Regions from separate parts of the Homo sapiens genome. Here region 2 is linked to region 1. The links come from fine-mapping of genetic effects on gene expression. Tissue or cell type: whole blood. Region 1 holds a variant in brackets; the other region holds the start of a gene. All regions are shown on one strand. Distances are from middle to middle.

The links. PIP is the estimated chance that this variant, and not a neighbour inherited with it, causes the effect.
Region 2: it holds the start of LAPTM5, and the variant in region 1 is fine-mapped to the expression of LAPTM5 in whole blood (TOPMed, PIP above 0.99).

The regions. Positions count from the first base shown.
Region 1 is chr1:30,729,212-30,738,994 of GRCh38, reverse strand. LAPTM5 (lysosomal protein transmembrane 5) reads left to right here. Exons shown (of 8, transcript NM_006762.3): 5 at 1-55; 6 at 1,296-1,391; 7 at 3,730-3,822; 8 at 5,078-6,526. The coding sequence ends at 5,167. Among named protein-coding and RNA genes, the nearest start is that of MIR4420, 5.1 kb to the left of the region's middle. RefSeq lists enhancers at 5,170-5,671, 5,712-6,217, 6,218-6,723, 8,393-8,502, 8,653-8,782. The variant A/G (reference allele first, on the strand shown) is at 6,046.
Region 2 is chr1:30,752,721-30,762,503 of GRCh38, reverse strand. LAPTM5 (lysosomal protein transmembrane 5) reads left to right here and starts at 4,730. Exons shown (of 8, transcript NM_006762.3): 1 at 4,730-4,845. The coding sequence starts at 4,759. RefSeq lists enhancers at 3,581-3,650, 4,719-4,998, 5,127-5,923, 6,589-6,638, 7,110-7,459.

The sequences.
Region 1 (9,783 bases):
CAGCTCCTACATGGAAGTGCCCACCTATCTCAACTTCAAGTCCATGAACCACATGGTGAGTCTGGGGCAGGGAACCATGCCCATTTGCTGGCTGTGTGGCCTTGAACAGGTTACTTCACGTCTCTGTGTGTCTGTGGTTTAGGCCAGGTTCCCTGGAGTTGGAGCTTGGGAGGAAGATTCTTGTGCTGGTGATTTATTGAGGGAGCCCTCTCAGGAAGAAACTTGTCAGGAGTGAGGAAGGCAGGTTCGAGAAAAGGAGGAAGCCAAGCAAAGAAGCAAAGATGTGGCTGTAGGAGCAGCCCTGCATGATCCCAGAGAGGGCTTTGGCATGTGAATTGCAACACAGACATAATATCAGTTTTTATTGTTGTCTAATGAATTATCTCTAAGCATCATGGCTTAAAGCAATAAACATTTATTATTTCACACAGCTTCTGAGGATCAGGAGCTTGGGAGTGGCTTAGCTGGGTTCTTCTGACTCAGGGACTCTGGTGGGGCTGCACCAGAGATGGTACCTGGGGCTGTGGACAACTGAGGGCTTGATTAGATCTGAAGGATGAACTCCTGGTGGCTCACTCACAGGGCGTGGGCTCTTTGCCTAATTCCTCATCCTGTGGACTTGTAGTAGTGCTGCTTGAGTGCTCTCCTGACATGGCTGCTGGCTTCCCCTGCGGGAGTGATGTAAGAGATAAGCAAGGAGGAAAGGCAGTGTCTTTTAAGACTTCTATCACTTCTGCCACATTCTGTTAGTTAGAAGTGCGTTGCTAAGTCCAGCCCACACTCAAGGGGAGAGGAAATAAACACCACCTTTAGAAGGGAGGCGTCTCAAAGAATGTGTGGTAATATTTGCAAATGACCACAGAGGCAGTCTCACCTAGGGCGAGTTCCCCTGCATCAGTCATTGGTTTCAAGCTGCCCCTAGGGGAGGGAATGTAACCTCCCAGGTATTAGTGGATTAGGTGGTCCCTGTCAGCCAAAATGATCTTGTAGAGAAGAGCATAGGTGTGGCCCATGGGCAGCTGACACCTGCCAGCTGGGGATGGGCCGGTGCGCCAGCCTGGGAAGCAGATCTGGAGATAGTAGCCACTTGGCTTTTCTTGGTTTGCCCGTCAGTGGGATGGGGCTGAAGGTAGCACCTGCTTCCTAAGGCTGCTGTGGCGGTCGACCAAGGTGACGGCTGTGCCACGCTGTGCTCGTGTGTGTGTGGAGGGTGGGATCATTATTCCCGGATGTGTGGGTGCTGTTGGAATTCCTTATGTCCAGAGACATTGATGTGGCCCCCAAATCTGTTGCAGAATTACCTCCCCAGCCAGGAGGATATGCCTCATAACCAGTTCATCAAGATGATGATCATCTTTTCCATCGCCTTCATCACTGTCCTTATCTTCAAGGTGAGTGGATCCCTGCCCTGCGGCTCTGGGAGGGGTGGTGAGGCTGTGCTGGGCCCAGGCCTGCCCATGCCAAGCTGTTAGAAGGCAGGGACATGTGTCCTCCATGCCTCCTCTCCTGCTTTTAGCTCCTTTCTCTTGCTTTCCCATGCCAGCTCCTCTGACTTTACTTGGGATCCTCCGAGACAGCCCATTTAGGGCATGTGAATCCGTAAAGGCCACCTGCGTTCAGATGTCTAATTCCAGCTGTCTGGAATTAGATTTGGACTGGCCTGCGTTTGAATCCAAGCCCCACTGTCACTAGCTGCGTGGTTGGTCTTCAGCAAGTCACTTCTCTCTGGGCCTCAGGGGCAGGAGTCTTGTTTTGCCTGTGTTACAGTTTTATGTAATTCAGGCATCAAAATGTACCTGAGATTATGTTAATAGAGGTTTGGTGATGAGAAGGCAGGAGGGGAATGGTCTCATTCTTCTCTGGGGTGGTCAGGCCCAGAGGATAGGGTCCAGCTTCAGGTCCCAGGTCTGAGTGATGGTGAAGCACTGGAGTGTGTTCACAGCAGTACAACCAGCAACGTGAAGAGACAAGAAAACGCTGCCATCTTAGGAAGTCAAAAAACCCCCACAAAACCCAACAAAGACCTGAGCGTTTATTCAGCATGGAAAATAGAGGACTCAAGGGGGACCTGACTGCTGTTTCTTAATACCTGAAGAACTCTTGTGGGGAATTTTGTGGGATCCTAGAGGCCACAATGGGGGCCTGTGGCCTGAAGCCACAGGGATGCTGATGACCACAGAAGGAAGGGCTTTTAAAAAGTGTTCTTTTCTGATTATAAAAGTAACATAGGTCATAGTAGAAATTTAAAAACTACAGATGAGCTGGATGTGGTGGCTCACATCTGTAATCCCAGTGCTTTGGGAGGCTGAATTGGGAGGATTGCTTGAGGCCAGGAGTTCAAAACCAACCTGGGCAACATAGCAAGATTCTGTCTCTACAAAACATAAAAAAAAAAAAGTTGGATGTGGTGGCGTGTGCCTGTAGTCCCAGCTACTAGGGAGGCTGAAGCGGGAGGATCGCTTGAGCCTGGGAGGTTGAGGCTGCAGTGGGCCATAATCATGCCACTGCACTCCAGCCTAGGCGACAGAGTGAGAATCTCTCTCTAAAACAAAAAACAAAAACCAAAAAACTACAGATAAGTAGAAAGAAGACAAGCACTCCACCATCCACACCCCACACAGAGAGCATCACTGCTGACAACTGGGTGCATTTCCCCCCAGCCTTTCTGTGGTGGTGGGTGGGCATCTGCAGACCCCAGCTCCTGCTTCCATCTGAGGCCCTGGGCAGTCTCTGCTGTCACCTAATGCCAACCTAGAAACAGAACCTTGCCCCTTTTAGCATCTTCTCCAAGGACTGACCTAGCACAAACGCACTAGTGAGTGTACAGTGAGAACACCCCTGAAGGCCTCATGGGGGAAGCCAGTGTGGGCTTTCCATGGCACTCTCTACTGCAGGACCCCTCCGCAGACCCCAGCACACAGCTCCGTCCCCCAGCTCCCCTTCTGTTTTTTATCCTCCAGAATGAGGGGCTTCCCTCTTTGACCCTCATTCTGCCTCTCTGGCCCCCTCCACCGACTTGATTTTCCCTGGGCCTTCATGCTTCATTCTTTGTCACTCCGTACCTCCATATGTCTCCTTGCCCCACCTATGTGCCCATCAGGGAATCCATCAAACAAGACCTTCCAGTACAGGACCCTCTCCTCTTACTCAGGGGGCATCCTGGGGGTTTTCTGTTGTTTCTTGAGCTTGCCCCTTGGGATTGTATGCCCCACTCTGGAAAGCTTCTGCCCAATTCTTACATTAACTTGCATCAGCTGATGGACATGTACTAACTGTTCCTCCTTTATAAACATGGACCAATACTGCACATGCTGTTTTGTAATCTGCTTCAGAAAACAACATATCGGAAGCAATTTTGAAGAAAACATGTCCCACCATCAGCTCTGTTTCGAGATGGGCAGGGCTGTCTCAGGAGGTAGTGAGCTTCCAGGCAGTGTGGGCAGTCAAGCAGGAGCTGTGGGACTATTGCCAGGGAAATTGGAGGGTGGGCTAGAAGCCCCCCAAATCCCCTTGCTATGTGGTATCTGTGGGGCAATGAAAAGGGCAATACCTGGAATATTCTGGACTGGCTGGTGAGGAACCCCCAACCAGAATGAGAGGTCCGAGCAGGAGCAGCTGGATGCTGGCTTCTGGAGAGAGTGGTGGCTCCTGCCTGGCATATGTCCTAGGCCTGCTGGAGCGTGAGAAGGACGCTCAGCAAAGCACAGCCTGACCTGGGCCTTTTTCCAGGTCTACATGTTCAAGTGCGTGTGGCGGTGCTACAGATTGATCAAGTGCATGAACTCGGTGGAGGAGAAGAGAAACTCCAAGATGCTCCAGAAGGTGAGTGTGGCTGCAGGTGGGTGCCAGCCCTGTCACTAACTCCCTGTGCCATTTGGGTCAAGTTTCCTTCCCTCTCTGGACCTTGGTTTCTCTATTTGTAAGATGAGGGTTGGAACAGAAGAAATGTGTTCTCTTTCAGTTCTGGTAGTCTAAGATTCATTCACTCACTCATTCATTTATTCAGTATTTACTGCCTCTCACTCTTTGCTAGTCTCATATCGATTCCAGGAGGCGCAGAGAAAACTAAGATGCCACCTCTGCCTTAGAGGAGTGTACAGTTCAGACACATAGATACAATTACAACTTGGTGTGAAGCACAGGGACAATAAGCACAGAGGAAGGACCTGGCCTCTTCTCAGGTATCAGGGAAGCCTTCCTGGAGGAGGTGACAGTTAACTGGTCTTGGAGGGTCAATGGATATGAGATAGCTGGGAAAGCAGAAGGAGGCTTTCCGGGAAGAGAGGATGAGGTGTGCTTAGAAGCAGCTTATTGGAAAGTGACGGTTTAAATTCCTGGTAACTTACTTTCCTCACCTGTAAGGTGGAGATTGTATTAGCTAAGACACTTTTGGTTGCAAGTGGCAGAAACCCAACTCAATCTGACTTCAGGAATTTACTAGCTCACAGAACTTAGCAGCCAAATGTAGGTCTGGCTTGGGCCTGGCTGAGTCCTGACATCAGGATATGATCTCGTCCTCTCCAACTCTTGACTCTACTTTCCTTGATGTTGGCTTCATTTTCCGGAAGCCCATCCCTTGTGGTGGCAAAAAGGCTGCCAAAACCCCTAGGCAGATATCCCACCCTCTCAGAAATCCCAACAGAAAAAGAAGGTCCCAGGAGTATGTCTGATTGGACCAACTTGGGCCACGTGCCTATCCCCAAACCAAGGACTATAGCCAGGGGGATGGAATTCTACTTTGAGTGGCCAAGTCCAGCCACCTCGCTGGATCTGAGGGATGGGACCAGTTCTTCTGAAGGTATATGGACTGAGAATGTTTTCCCAAGGAAAATGGTGCACTGTTTTCAAAATAAGGGGGACTTGATGCTGAATAGGCAAAGGCAAATATGTCCACTACAGGGCTGGGAACTGCACCTATCTCATGCAGGCAATGTCTAGCACATAGCAAATATCCAAGACCTGCCAGTCATTATCATCATCATTTTGCCAGAGGTGGGGGTTTGGGTCCCATGACCCCAGGTTGGAATTGCAGGTCATTCTTGACCATACTCAGCCCTCATCTCTCTGTCTCTCCCAGGTGGTCCTGCCGTCCTACGAGGAAGCCCTGTCTTTGCCATCGAAGACCCCAGAGGGGGGCCCAGCACCACCCCCATACTCAGAGGTGTGACCCTCGCCAGGCCCCAGCCCCAGTGCTGGGAGGGGTGGAGCTGCCTCATAATCTGCTTTTTTGCTTTGGTGGCCCCTGTGGCCTGGGTGGGCCCTCCCGCCCCTCCCTGGCAGGACAATCTGCTTGTGTCTCCCTCGCTGGCCTGCTCCTCCTGCAGGGCCTGTGAGCTGCTCACAACTGGGTCAACGCTTTAGGCTGAGTCACTCCTCGGGTCTCTCCATAATTCAGCCCAACAATGCTTGGTTTATTTCAATCAGCTCTGACACTTGTTTAGACGATTGGCCATTCTAAAGTTGGTGAGTTTGTCAAGCAACTATCGACTTGATCAGTTCAGCCAAGCAACTGACAAATCAAAAACCCACTTGTCAGTTCAGTAAAATAATTTGGTCAAACAACAGTCTATTGCATTGATTTATAAATAGTTGTCAGTTCACATAGCAATTTAATCAAGTAATCATTAATTAGTTACCCCCTATATATAAATATATGTAATCAATTTCTTCAAATAGCTTGCTTACATGATAATCAATTAGCCAACCATGAGTCATTTAGAATAGTGATAAATAGAATACACAGAATAGTGATGAAATTCAATTTAAAAAATCACGTTAGCCTCCAAACCATTTAATTCAAATGAACCCATCAACTGGATGCCAACTCTGGCGAATGTAGGACCTCTGAGTGGCTGTATAATTGTTAATTCAAATGAAATTCATTTAAACAGTTGACAAACTGTCATTCAACAATTAGCTCCAGGAAATAACAGTTATTTCATCATAAAACAGTCCCTTCAAACACACAATTGTTCTGCTGAAGAGTTGTCATCAACAATCCAATGCTCACCTATTCAGTTGCTCTGTGGTCAGTGTGGCTGCATA[A/G]CAGTGGATTCCATGAAAGGAGTCATTTTAGTGATGAGCTGCCAGTCCATTCCCAGGCCAGGCTGTCGCTGGCCATCCATTCAGTCGATTCAGTCATAGGCGAATCTGTTCTGCCCGAGGCTTGTGGTCAAGCAAAAATTCAGCCCTGAAATCAGGCACATCTGTTCGTTGGACTAAACCCACAGGTTAGTTCAGTCAAAGCAGGCAACCCCCTTGTGGGCACTGACCCTGCCACTGGGGTCATGGCGGTTGTGGCAGCTGGGGAGGTTTGGCCCCAACAGCCCTCCTGTGCCTGCTTCCCTGTGTGTCGGGGTCCTCCAGGGAGCTGACCCAGAGGTGGAGGCCACGGAGGCAGGGTCTCTGGGGACTGTCGGGGGGTACAGAGGGAGAAGGCTCTGCAAGAGCTCCCTGGCAATACCCCCTTGTGTAATTGCTTTGTGTGCGACAGGGAGGAAGTTTCAATAAAGCAGCAACAAGCTTCTGTCTGGCTGATGTGTTTCTGGAAATACAGTGTAGGGAGGGTGGAGACCAGCCTTCTACCTCCATCACCCCAGGACTCACCCACACCCCCTACACCCACACCCCTCCACACACTCACACCCACCCCCACACACCCACAAATACACCCAAACACCCACACTCCCCCCACATACCCACACACTCACACCCTCCCCACACCCCTCCACACACTCACTCCCACCGCCTACACACCCACACACCCCCCATATACCCACACACTCACACCCCCCACACCCCTCCACACACGCCCACCCCCACACACCCATGTAAACACTCACACATACCTAGTTGCTCCATCCAGAAACTCCTCCCATGGGCCATGCTGAGCGAGGGGTGGTCCTGACCCAATGCTGTCTGATCATGAACCACAGCCCAAGATGATGCACCCTGATGTCTCCCTAATCAGGCGTGCACTCCACTCCCCTGGGGCTGGGTCCTGCTCTGGACACTGGGGAAGACCTCAACAGATGAGACTCGCCTCCAGTTCCCCCCAGTCTGCGGTAGGAGGGACAGATCTGCAAAAGGGCTGCCACGATAGGGAAAGCCTAGGGGACCTCAGACGTGGCCTGAGGGCCAGAGAAAGCCTCTTGGAGGCTGTCACCAAGTGGAGTCTGAAGGATGAGAAGGCAGCAGTAAGCAGAATGGGAAGGGTGCTCTAGGTCTAGGTAGCAGGACACGCAAAGACTCTATGGCATTGGGGAGAGGAGCTGGGGCGAGCTGCTCAGCGTGGCTGCAAGTGGGGAGGGGAGGGAGAAGAGGTCGGCCCGCTGTGGGGCTGGGTCAGGAAGAGTGTTTGCACACAGTGGGGCTCTTTAGGTGCAAGCTCACCCTGGCTAAGTTCAGCCAAGAAGGGAATTTACAGGAAGGACATGGTTGCAAGTAACAGAAGCCTTATGAGCCAAGTTTATTATGAGAAACCAGAAGGTGGTTCACGATGTTTCTTGGCTCTCATACAAATAAAAAATCCAGGGATTTTTGGCTTCAGGTATGGCAGGATCCAGGACTACAACTCTTTAATAATGTCTCTCTGTTTCTCCATCTCTTATCTTTTCTCCCCGGTGTGGCTGAGCTGTTGAGGACTTACCTGAAAGTAAAGTTAATAAAGAGACCAGGGCTGTTTGAATTGGGATCTGTCACCAATACCAAAAGAGCCCTCAGAGCCTTGAATGTCACACCGAGGAACATGGACTAATCCTGAGACAGGTGTCTTTGAAGGATTTTGGGCCAAGGAGTTACAAGGTTTGGGTTTTAGGAAGGAAGAGCCCAAATGCAGGGACCCCTACAAAGGCTGGGGAAGTCATCCTATGGGGCGGCAGGGACGGGGATGAGTTTGAGAGGCATTGTCAACCTTCTGGTGGTGTCAGTTTTTTTGTGGAATGGCAGATTTCTTCATGGATGTTATTTGCTCCTTATCAGACCCCCAAGCAGTTGGTGCAGTGTAATTCACAGAAATGGAAAGCGAGCTCCTGTTCACACTTGAGGGCAGAGGCCCAGAGACATCAAGTGACTTTCCTGAGGCCACACAGTGGTCAGAGATGAGACCAAGCACCTTTTTTTTCTACTCCGAGTGGAGGCTTTTAGACGGGCTGGGGCCCAGTCTGTGTCAGTTGTTGCTTCTTGCAAAGACCCATGGGAAGAGGGCCCGCTGAGAAGCCCCGGCAAGTGTGGATTGGGAGCAGAGGTCACGGGAGGAGAGACATTGGCCCAGCCTTGCATCCTATCACAAGGAGATTGAAGGGCCATGGCTGCGTGTGTCACAAGGACCAGGAGGCCCTGAACTTCCCGGCGCGACTCTCCCGTCCTTCCCGCCTTCCCCGACTCCCACCTCTGGCCTGGAGCCGAAGAACAGGCTGAGCTGTGTAGTGGGATTGTGCCCTGTGGCCAGGCAGCTGGGAGGGGGCCACCCGAGGGACAGGAAATAGCTGGGTTTGGGGAAGTCCGCATGGCTAGCCAAGCCAAGCGAGCCCACGATCGCCTGGGCAGCCCTCACTGAGGCCCTATCAATGCCCCGTTTGAGGCTCACACAGGGGTCCTTTGACGGGGCTGCGATGGTTTGGACCCACTGACAGCGCCTGTTTGAGCTTCATGCCTGGAAAGGAGCCGGCCCCAGGACAGAGGGGGCTGCTTCCAGGCCTGGGCAGGTGAGGGCAGCCTGGAGTGGTTGTCTCTTGGAGGGAAAAAAGAGCTGGTAAAATTAAACCTGGGGTGCTAAGCGGGGCAACTTCAGGTTTCTCGGGAGCTGTGATGGTAGCAGGAAGGGTCCCCGTAATTGAGTGGGCCCTTCAGTGTGCTGGCTCCACAAAGCTCCCAGTGGCCTCACGCAGCAGGTGCTGGGTGGTGATCATTCCTGAGGTTCAGGGAGGGGCTGCCTCTGCCCACAGTCACGCATTGGCCAAGGGGCAGACCTGGGCTTGGACTTCAGTCCACCCAAATGGACCTGAGCTTGTCTCTCTAGACCTTTCTGGGTAACCTCGCCCTTCCTCTGGGAATTTCTACCTCACAAGGCCCTCATTTAATTCCTATTCCAGGCTCTGAGCCCTCTTGGGAGGGCCCTGGCAGAAGCAGGAGGCCTCAGAGGCAGCAGGGAGCTTTTGGATGTTGCGGACCCTCGGATGGTGGTGCCCAGCTCTGAGCAGAGGATGCGAAACGGGGGATGGCAAAGGATGCATCGCGTTTTGGTGGGGCTAGATTTGCGCTTCCTTGGGGGACATATAATGGGAGGTGCTCAGGAAGCAGCTGGGTCTCTAGGTCTGGAGTTTAGGAGAGCGAGGAGGGAGGCAGGTTGAGATGTGAGTGCTATCTTTGGACATGTGGGTGGGATATCAGGTTGGGCTGGTATCACCCAGGTGTTAACCCATCAGAAGGATGTGCTGCTGCTCCGTGGCCTCCCCAGACAGGCCGGCAGATGAAAGCACACGCCTCCTCACCCTGGATTCCAGTTTGGCTGACCATGCGTGGGGCCTGAGACCAAGATAGCACATGGGAGGTGTCATGAACCACATGTGACACCTCAGATCATGGGGTCTGTGGCCCGAATGGGGCCTGGGCAGGAGGAGCAGCCCAGCTGCACTGCAGGCTCCTGGATGGGGCGATGAGCATGGCCACTTTGCAGGTGAGGAATCTGCCCTGTGACTGTGGGCCCCTCCACATCTCTGCCTGACTTTTGGGAAGACCAGAGATTCATGTCCAATCCGGTACTCTGGCAGTGTCTCCAATTTG
Region 2 (9,783 bases), 24 kb before region 1:
GTGTGCCCAGAGCTGTTATTCAGCAGGAGGCTGCTGGCTCGGCTATGCAGACTTTGCAGCCAGTGCTCCTTCTGCCTGCTGGTCCCATCTCCCTGGAGCCTTCAGCCTGCAGTGCCTGTGGCAGCAGCAGACTAGGATATGGTGTCATTGTGCCCCTGGGTGCAGCCAGGGACCCCTGGACTGCCTGGCTGAGGGGAGGCCTCCTTGGAGTGTCTGGCAGACCGTTGGGGTCCCCTGCCTGCCCACTGGACTCAGCAGCTGGTCATTGGAAGGTCTGGTTGTCCCCAGGCCACAGGCCTGTGGGCTGTCCTTGCCAGGCTGACCCTCCAGGCTGACTTCAAGGCCTGGGCCCCTTCCACAGGCAGGGGAGTAGGGGAGGGACCCTGTGGGTTGCACGTGTAGGCCCTGACCCCTGGTGACCGTGCTGGGTTCGGGGCAGGAGACAGGAGAGAATGCTCTGCCGTTTCTCACATTTTTCAGGCCTTTGGCTTTGGCCCTACACATTCCAGCCCCAAACCTCAAAGGCAGAAGTGAGGTGGGGCTTGCAGCCAGAAGGGAATCACAGGCCAGTGGTCTGGCAGGAAGCTGACCTTCAGCCTGGGTGAGCTGCAGGGGGCACCCAGGAGCCCCTCGGGAGAAGACAGCCCTGGAGCTACCTTGGCTGCCACCACTCACATGCCGCCCACGAAGCTGTCCCCAAGGAGGACCTGTGTCCTGGCTCTGCTCCTGACCAGCTGTGTGTCTTGCAGCAGATCACTGGCCCCTTGGGTCTACGGGAGCTGATCAGTGCCTCTCTGCTGCCTTCCTCTGCTGGCTAGGGCTGGGGGAGGCTCAGCTGAGAAAGGGTTTAAAGGACAGGAAGAATCATAGTGACAATCGTGATCAAAATGCTTCCCACTGTGCAGTCCTTACCGTGACCCAGCCCCTTCTAAGTGCTTCATCTAGGTTAATGGAAAGGACACAAGACTCCCAAACTCTTTGTTTAAATACAAAAGCTGGCAGAGTCGTGGGTTTTATTTTTACCTCCAGGCCTATGGGTGAAGAGGGAAGTTCCAGTGATGTTCTTCTGACTTAACAAAGAAAGCTTACAACTAATTCTGCCTTTGAGGAAACAGAGCTGTCTGTTTAAATATTCATATACCATGGCAGCAAATTATTAAGCCAGATAACCAGCCAGAATTACAGACCTTTTCAGGATTAAAGATGACTCTCTAGGATCTGGGAACCATGTCTGAAGTCAGGGGGTCTTAGAAGATTCCTTTGTCAGAAATAACATTGACAAGGGCAGTTTGACAAGCAGATTTGTATCTGCTCTGCCGTGGCTGCGGTGGCATGGAACATTTCCTTGTCCTTATCTTGATGAATTCAGAGGGTCTGAAGTTTTCAAGGGTTCTACCACTCCACAAAGAAGGTATGAAAAGCAACTTGAAGAAGCTCAAAACTTATCATTCGTAACGGAAAACAGCAGAATATAAATAGTGAGCTTATGTGGTGTTGCCACCTGCATGTACAGACAACGAGATGGGCATTATCATTATCCCCGCTTGGCGCAGGAGGAAGCGGAGGCTCAGGGAAGTTCACGACTTGGCTGGGGTCACACAGCAAGGAAGTAAGGGCTGCACTTGTGCAGATGGGGACTGTGGTCTCGGTGGAGTGTGTTGGGCTCCAGCGACGGGGCCCCAGGCTCAGCTGTTGCTTCCACTGAGCAGCTGTATTTGTTCCCTGCGGCCGCTATAATAAAAGACCAGAAACACAGTGACTACAACAGACATTTATTGTCTTACAGTTCTGGAGGCCAGAAGTCAGGAATGCGCCTCGCTGAGCTAAAATGAAAGTGATTCCCTTTCGAGCCTCTAGAGGAGAAGCCATTTCCTTGCCTTTTCCAGTTTCTGGATGCCGCCTGCACTCCTTGGCTCATGGTTCTTCCTCCAACTGCAGAGCCAGGAGTGTGGCATCTTCCACTCCCTCTCTGACTCTGATCTTCCTTCACTTATGGGGACCCATTTGATGACCTCAGGGCCATCCAGATAATGCAGGATAATCTCCCCACCCACCTCAAGATCCTGAATTTCATGGCGCCTGTGAAGTTTCTTTGCCATGTAAGGCCATGTACGCACAGGTTCCAGAGATTAGGGTGGATTTTTTTTGGGGGGTGAGAGGCACTATTCTGCCTATCACAGTGGCTTTGGCCAAAGGGTCTGACCTTTGGGATAATAGCCGTCCTCTCCACAGGGGGTTTGTTGGGAATGACAATAAAGTGATTCAGGCTTGTACTCCACAGGGAGTGACTGAGGTGCCTGCCAAGGGGCCAGTGTGTGCTGGAGCCTGGTGACCCGGTGAGAGACAAATGACTGCATCAGAACTCCTGCTTCTGCGAGGGAGGTAGTGCCCGAGGGGACTCAGAATCAGACAGATCAGGGGTTCAATCCCAGCTCTGCCTCCTCCTAGCAGCCTGAGTACGGGTGAGATCGGGGAGCAGGGACGGGCTGGAAGGGAGAAAACAAACAGATGCATTCACGTGACCTCATTTCACCTTCACCGCAGCCCTGCCAGGCAAATTTCTGTTCCCCCCAACCGCCCCGCCGTTTTGCAGAGGTGAAAACAACAGCTCAGAGAGATCAAGTGCCTTGTCTGACACCACACAGCTACTAAGTGGGGAGCTGGGATTCCCCATGCCCCAGGATTCCCAAACGGATGCCACCTACTCCACCTCCAGGGCTGTCTGCCACATCTGCGTCCTCCTAGGCTGTGGCTTCCTTAATATGTTCTTTAAATTGACTTACTGCCTTTTTTATTTAAATGCATTTCTTTTAAAATGAGACTTTATATTACTCCTATAAATGGAAAATCACAGGATTCATGGACTAGTTATGTATATTTTTATAATGCACATTAAAATGAATTTATCACCATAAAAAATGAGAAATGTTTACCCATAGACCATGTACAATTATTCCACATGCTGTCAGTGTGTTTCATCCCTCTCTTTGGGAGTTGGCTTTGCACCTGTCCTGGTTTCACCAAATCACAATGTTATGAATGGCTATCATTTATTATGGTAGGAAATCGTCAAATGGCTTCTGTGCACAATCAAATGCAGACTCCCCAGCATGGCCTCAGGGCCCTCCTGGCCCCTGGTTTCCTGATCTCCAGTTCCTCTGGTCTTGCTACTCTTAGACAAAGGAGGACTTCTCTTGGTTTTCTGCCTACCCAGCCAGAAGATCCCAGGCCATGGGCCTGTGGAGCCAAAGTTCTTAACCACTGCACTGTGTCACCTTTCTATGATGTCAGGCCTCAGCAAGGCTTATGAAGGAACAGGAACAGCCTTGAAAATGAAGTTGGGAAGGGATAGGCCAGGCCTCCCAGGAGCCCAAAGCTTGCAGAGTCCCCTTGGTCTCATTGGCACATGGAGAATGGATTGATCAAGTCCACCAATCAAGTTTTGTGGGTCTAACAGAGCAACTCCTGCCAAGTGGGAGGAGCTTAGGGACTTTCTATAACCTCTCCTGGGGCAGAAATGATGGGCTGCAGCAGTGTCCAATCCTAACTCCATGATCTCCTGGGAGGGCAGGGCTTCATGGCAGTTCCTGTCTGCTCTGCACTAGAAGCTTGGCATTGCAAAGGGGCTCAGCTGTGGAATGAAGCAGGGCTTCTTCCAGAAATGTTGCATGTACTTCCTATTCCCTTTCTTTATTGCAATATGGATAATTTATCATCTGAGGAGGGAGTAGAGATTCCAGGGTAGCTTGCCTAAGAGTTGTGGCTTATTAATTCCAACTTTTTGCAAGATCAAGGGGGAAAAGCAATCCCTGATTTTGTGTGAGTATGGGGATTGGGTCTTGAGGCCCTGAAAGTGAGGTTCGGGTCTCACAGATTGCTGTGAAGAGTTATTGACCCACCTAGAAGAGAAGCCTAGCCCAGGGCCTGGCGCACAGTTGATGGGTTTGCTTCCTGGTTATTCTTCCGTCCTTGTCTGGAGCCCTGCACGCCTCTTCGTAGCTTAGGAAGAACAAGCTTCTCCCTGCGGCTCAGGGTGAGGAAGTGGGAGAGAACACCAGCTCCAGGGAGGCTTCTAGCACCAGTCAGCCTCAGTTAAAATCCTTGCACCTTCATTGACTAGCTGTGTGACCTTGCACGAATCATTCCCCCTCTCTGTGCCTCAGTTTCTTCATCTGTAAAATGGGGATCATAATAGTACCTCTCTCAAAGGATTGAGGTGAGGATGAAAGGAGTGAATCCAGGAGCATGCCTGGAAGAGGCAGGAAATGCCTCCTAGACAATAGCTATTTTTGCAGCCAGACAGATCTGGGTTTGAATTCTGCCACCAGTGCTAACTACTGTGTGATTTGGGGCAAGTGCCTTGACCTCTCTGGACAGCTGTTTCCTCATCTGGAAATGGGCTTGGTAACAGTCCTGGCTTCCAAAGTTGGTAGTGTTCTTCTAGTAAGCAAGCTGTGTGAAACGGTGGAACCCTGGCCCTGGTGCAGAGAAGGGCATGATGACCGTGTTAGGGTCTGTCCTCTCTGGAACCCCCTCCTGGGAATGGCAGAGGGCAGTGGGGTGCTCTGAGGCAGGCTGCTGCCCTGTCCCCACTCCCCCTCCCCAGCTGCCCCGCCCCAGCTGTGACGACCTTGTCCCTGCCTGTCTAAGGGGCAGGAAGGAAGTGAGGAGGGCAGCCAGCAGCTTCCCCTTCTCTGCCCTGCTCCAGGCACCAGGCTCTTTCCCCTTCAGTGTCTCAGAGGAGGGGACGGCAGCACCATGGACCCCCGCTTGTCCACTGTCCGCCAGACCTGCTGCTGCTTCAATGTCCGCATCGCAACCACCGCCCTGGCCATCTACCATGTGGTGAGTGTGCGGGCCCCGGGTGTGTGTGCGTGCGTGCTTGTGTGAGTGTGAATGTCTGCGGTGACCCGTCATCTACGGAGCCCCACAAATGAAAGAACTCCTGCTCTCCACCTCTCTGGGGGACCCTGGGCAAATCCCTGTCCTGCTCTGGGCCTCAGTTTCCTTCTCTGTCAAATGGCTGGGGGTACCCTGGGGAGATGCCGCAAGAGTGAGGAGTAAGGGAGCTGGAATCCACTTTCCAGGCAAATGTAACTGACGTTCACTCCGAGGCTGGCTCCGTTTCTGCCTCTGTGAGATGGGGCACAGCAGCAGCCGGAAGGTTATTTGTGTGCAAAGCCAACAGCAGATGTGAAAGTGCTTTGGAAGGCAGGGATCTTGGGAGGAACGTGGGCTGGGATTGTTTGACCGGGATGTGAGGTCGGCCGCAGACACAGCCCCGATTCTTCCCCTGGGGCCTGGAGGGAGCCTGGGCCACTCGAGGGGATGAGAAGTGGGGATCTCCCCTTTGTGCCTCCAGTGGGGAGGCAGGGGCCGTGTCCTCTCAGCTTCCAGCTCAGTCAAACCACGGCCTTCTGCCCACCAAAGAGAACTTGAGACCTGTGCTAATCATTAGGGTAACTTGTCCGGCCCAAGCTCTTGTTGGGCAACTTGTGAAGTCACGGCTGTCACTGGTTCCTCCTTTCCTGGTGACTCACAGTGTGGTCTTGGGCAAGTCACAGTGCCCGGGGGCCAAGGCTGCCCCTCTGCCTGGGGTGGCTGAGGGTCAGTGTCCTTGTACTGTCCTGCCTAGACCCACCCTACTCCCAAACTCCTGGCCACACTCATCTCCCCTAGACCCAAGCGACTTCCTCCTGGGGTGACTCAGGGCCTGTGGTTAACAGTTTTCTCATGAGTCTGGAAGGGCTTCCTCAAAATTAGCCTAGATCCACATGCTGCGGTGGGTTGCTGCAAACTCAGACCTGCCTGCGTCTGCTTCCTGTCACAGGCAGGGCAGGCAGAGCTGTGGCAAGAGCCCAGCCTTCAGGGGGGCGATGCTGTTCAGTGGTTAGCCCACGGCCTCTGGATGCAGACTCCTGCATGCAAATCCTGGCTTCCCTGCTTCCCAGCTCTGCAGCCTTGGGCAATTTACTTAACCTCTCTGAGCCTCAGTTTTCTCATTTAAAAAAATGGGGATGTGAATTATCATACCCATCTGATAGGGTTTGTTGTGAGGCTCAGGGAGTTGATACATACAAAGCATGCAGAACCACGCCTGACGCACAGGTGAGTGCTTTATTATTCGTTGTGCATCAGACATGGCACCTGCTGTCAGCATCCTTGGAGTCAAGTTGTCAGATTCAAGGACTCTAGTTTTGGGAGGAGGAACTCAGAGGTTGTCCTTCCGAGCTCCTGCCAATGCAAGAGCTGAGAGAAGCAAATCACTCTTTGAGTGTCCCTGTACCCTGTATTTTAGGCCTTCAAGCTCTGAGACTATGCACATTCTTAGAAGGACAGTGTGGCATGCAGGGGCGCCTCACAGGTAGCAAGTCCCTGGGTCCTCACCCCAGCCCTGCCACTAACTGGCTGTATGGGCTCAGACAAGCCTCTCTCTGGGCCTCAGTTTCCCTTTTATAAAGTCAGGGGTAAGGTGATGTTGACTGGCTCAGAGGTCTCCAACTCTGATGCCTCTAGGGTCTGGGCAGGCCATGTGAGTGACAGCAGGGGGCAGATGGGGCCTGCGGTGACCCCGGGAGCCCTTGCTTGGCCCACCCTGCAGCTGTTCTCTGTTTTTGCTTGTTGTTGCCACGAAGGATTGTGGGCCCTGGTGGCCGCTCTTCTGATGTTTAGAGAATAGGGAGCAGGCTTTTGTGTCACATCTTCTGATGTTTCAATGCTAGTGATTGATGCATGGTAGAAAAAAATCTCAGTGCAGGCCAAGTCAAATCCATTTGCAGGTTGTGTGGGCCCAGAGGCTGCCCTGCAAACCCGGGACTGTGGGGCTGTTAAGGTTTCTTGTTGATCGTGCCATCCGATGTCCTCACCTGTAAATGGTGGTGTGATATACGGTCCCTGCTCACAGAGCTGAAGAATGTGTGGGCCCTAGCAATCATGGAAGACTTCTTGGAGGTGGTGCCATTGGCAGGAGGGAGAGTTTGGTTGTGGGCAGTATGGAAGGTGAGGAGAAACAGGTGAGCAATGGCGTATGTGTTCGGCTTCTACAGGGACACAATAGAGACAAACCTGGAGTTTGGGGAGGAGGTGATAAAGGTTTTGAGTGACAAGCTAAGAAGTTGGATCTTCTCTGCAGTGCACCATTGATATTTTGGGCTGGATAATTCTTCATCTTGGGGGAGTGAATTGTGCGTTAGAGGAAGTTCAGCAGCATCCATGGTCTCTACCTACTAGATACTAGCAGCACTGCCCATCTCCCTACCCTGCCACTTGTGATAACCAAAAATGTCTCTAGTTATGGGGCCCAATCTCTCCCAGTTGAGAACCAATGCCTATGAGTGATGAGACGTTCTAGAGCAGGAGCAAGCAAAAGAGCAGAGGGGTGTCCTGGAAGCTGTGCGCTCGGCCCAGGTTGTCTCCAGGCTGTGGTCCTCAGTTGACTCCAGTGGGGGGTTATCTTCCTGCACCCCGAAAGAGTCCTCTCTCCTTCCCAGAAAGGGCAGGGCCTGGGGGCTTTCCCATAGGCTAGCTGGCAACAGGTGTGCTGATAGGACCTTGAGCATCTGGATGGAAAAAGAGAAGCTGTGGTCCAGATGTGTCAATAGCCCATGCTGGCTGTCATCTGGACCCAGCCATGGGTGACGACTCTGCACATCATGAGCTATTTGTGGACTTGGCCCCTCTAGGGAGGGTTAAATTGAGACCTTGCCATCCTGAGACAGTGCCACGCTCTATTGAGTCATGAGGGCGTTATTACATGAGGGAAGCCTGGTCCGTAGCTTTGGGCTCGGGCATCTTCCTCAGGATGTCAGTGGGTTTGTGTAGAGGATTCTCTGGGTCACCCAAACTTGCACACTTTGGGAACCCAGCAAACTTTCTTTCTTTTTTTAAAAAATCTATTCTTTTTTTCAAAGTTCAGTAACTTGCCCATCTTTTGTGGTTTGATTTGTTTTGTTTTGTTTTTGTTTTTAAGAGATGGGGTCTTGCTCTGTCACCCAGGCTGGAATGCAGTGGTGCCATCACAGCTCACTGCAGCCTTGAACTCCTGGGTTCAAGAGATCCTCCCACCTCAGCTTCCTGAGTAGCTAGGATCACAGGCGCATGCCACCATGGCCAGCTAATTTTAAATATTTTTTTTTGTAGAGACAGGGTCCCACTATGTTGCCCAGGCTGGTCTCAAACCCTTGGCCTCAAGTGATTCTCCTGCCTTGGCCTCCCAACGCGCTGGGATTACAGGCATGAGCCACCGAGCCCAGTCTAGAGAAATTTCTTAAATTGGGTCTCTTGGGTCCTGGCTTTTTGTCAACCTGAAGCACGTTCTAAGTCGATGGTAGAAAGTGGACACCCCCAGAAGACACTTTTGCCCAGAAATCTCTTTCTTCCTGACCCCTCTTCCCCAGAGTGCCCGGAATTCCACTGTCAGAAATGCATTGTCTGGGTTAAAAAACTTAACACCTGCTATGATTTCAACAGTGTCAAAACAGGATACGTCAAAACTGGGCGAGGAGGAAATGTATTTGGGTTCTAGGATAGTGAAAGCTCTATTTTTTCTACTTTTCTGTATTTTCCATATTTGGTACAATGAGCACGTACTTAGAACGGTTTTAGATTTACGAAAATATTGCAAACACAGTACAGATAGTTCTTGCGTCCCCCATGCCTAGTTCCTCTATTGCTAACGTCTCAACGTTAGTGTGGTGCGTTTGTTGCAATGGGTGAATGAATATTCGTGGGCTGTTATTAAAGTCAGTGCTTCACCCCTATTTCCCCAGCTTTCCTCTTACATCCTTTTTCTGTTCCAAGATTGCATCCAGGATGCCGCGTTACATTTAGTCTTCACACTTCCTTAGGTTCCTCTTGGTATGATGGTTTCTCAGATTTTTCTTGTTTTTGATAATCTTGACAGTTCGAGGAGTATTTGTCAGGCATTTTGTCAAATGTTCTTCAACTGGGGTCTCTGGTGGTTTTCTCATGATTAGTCTGGGAATGTGCTTTTGGGAGGAAGACCACAGAGATGATGTGCCAGTCTCAGAACATCGTACTAAGAAAAGGTTCTGCCAACTTGACTTACCACTGTTGCTGGTGACTTTGAGCCCCCGGCTGAGGTTACTCCTTTGTAAAGTTACTCTTTTTTTCTCCTTTCCATGCTGTATGTTTTAGAAGGAAGTCACTATGCTGCTCCAAGCAACTCAAGTTTGATGAATGGGGAGTTCCGCCCCACCTCCTTGAGGGCAGAGTAGCTACATAAATTACTTGGAATTTCTCAAGGAGATTTGTCTGTACTCCCAGTTTATTATATAAATAAATGATTTATTTATATTACAGGGACCCAGGGATCTTTACTGTATGCTTTGGGTTATAATCCAATGGTACTTTACTTTGTGGCTCAAGTATACTACTTTTAAATTGGAAAAAAAAAAAAGTACGGCCAGGTGCGGTGGCTCATGCCTGTAATCCCAGCATTTTGGGAGGTTGAGGCGGGTGGATCACTTGAGGTCAGGACAAAACCCTGTCTTTACTAAAAATACAAAAAATTAGCTGGGCATGATGGCGGGAGCCTGTAGTCCAAGCTACGCGGGAGGCTGAGGCAGGAGAATTGCTTGAACCTGGGAGGTGGAGGTTGCAGTGAGCCGAGATCGCGCCACTGCGCTCTAGCCTGACAGAGTGAGACTCTTTAAAAAAAAAAAAGGTAAAGCATTCAAATCATAGTATTTGAAGAAGGAGTCTCTATTGCCCTGACCTCGTGCAGGTAAGTTCACCCATGTGCCCAGCCCCAGGCCGGGATAC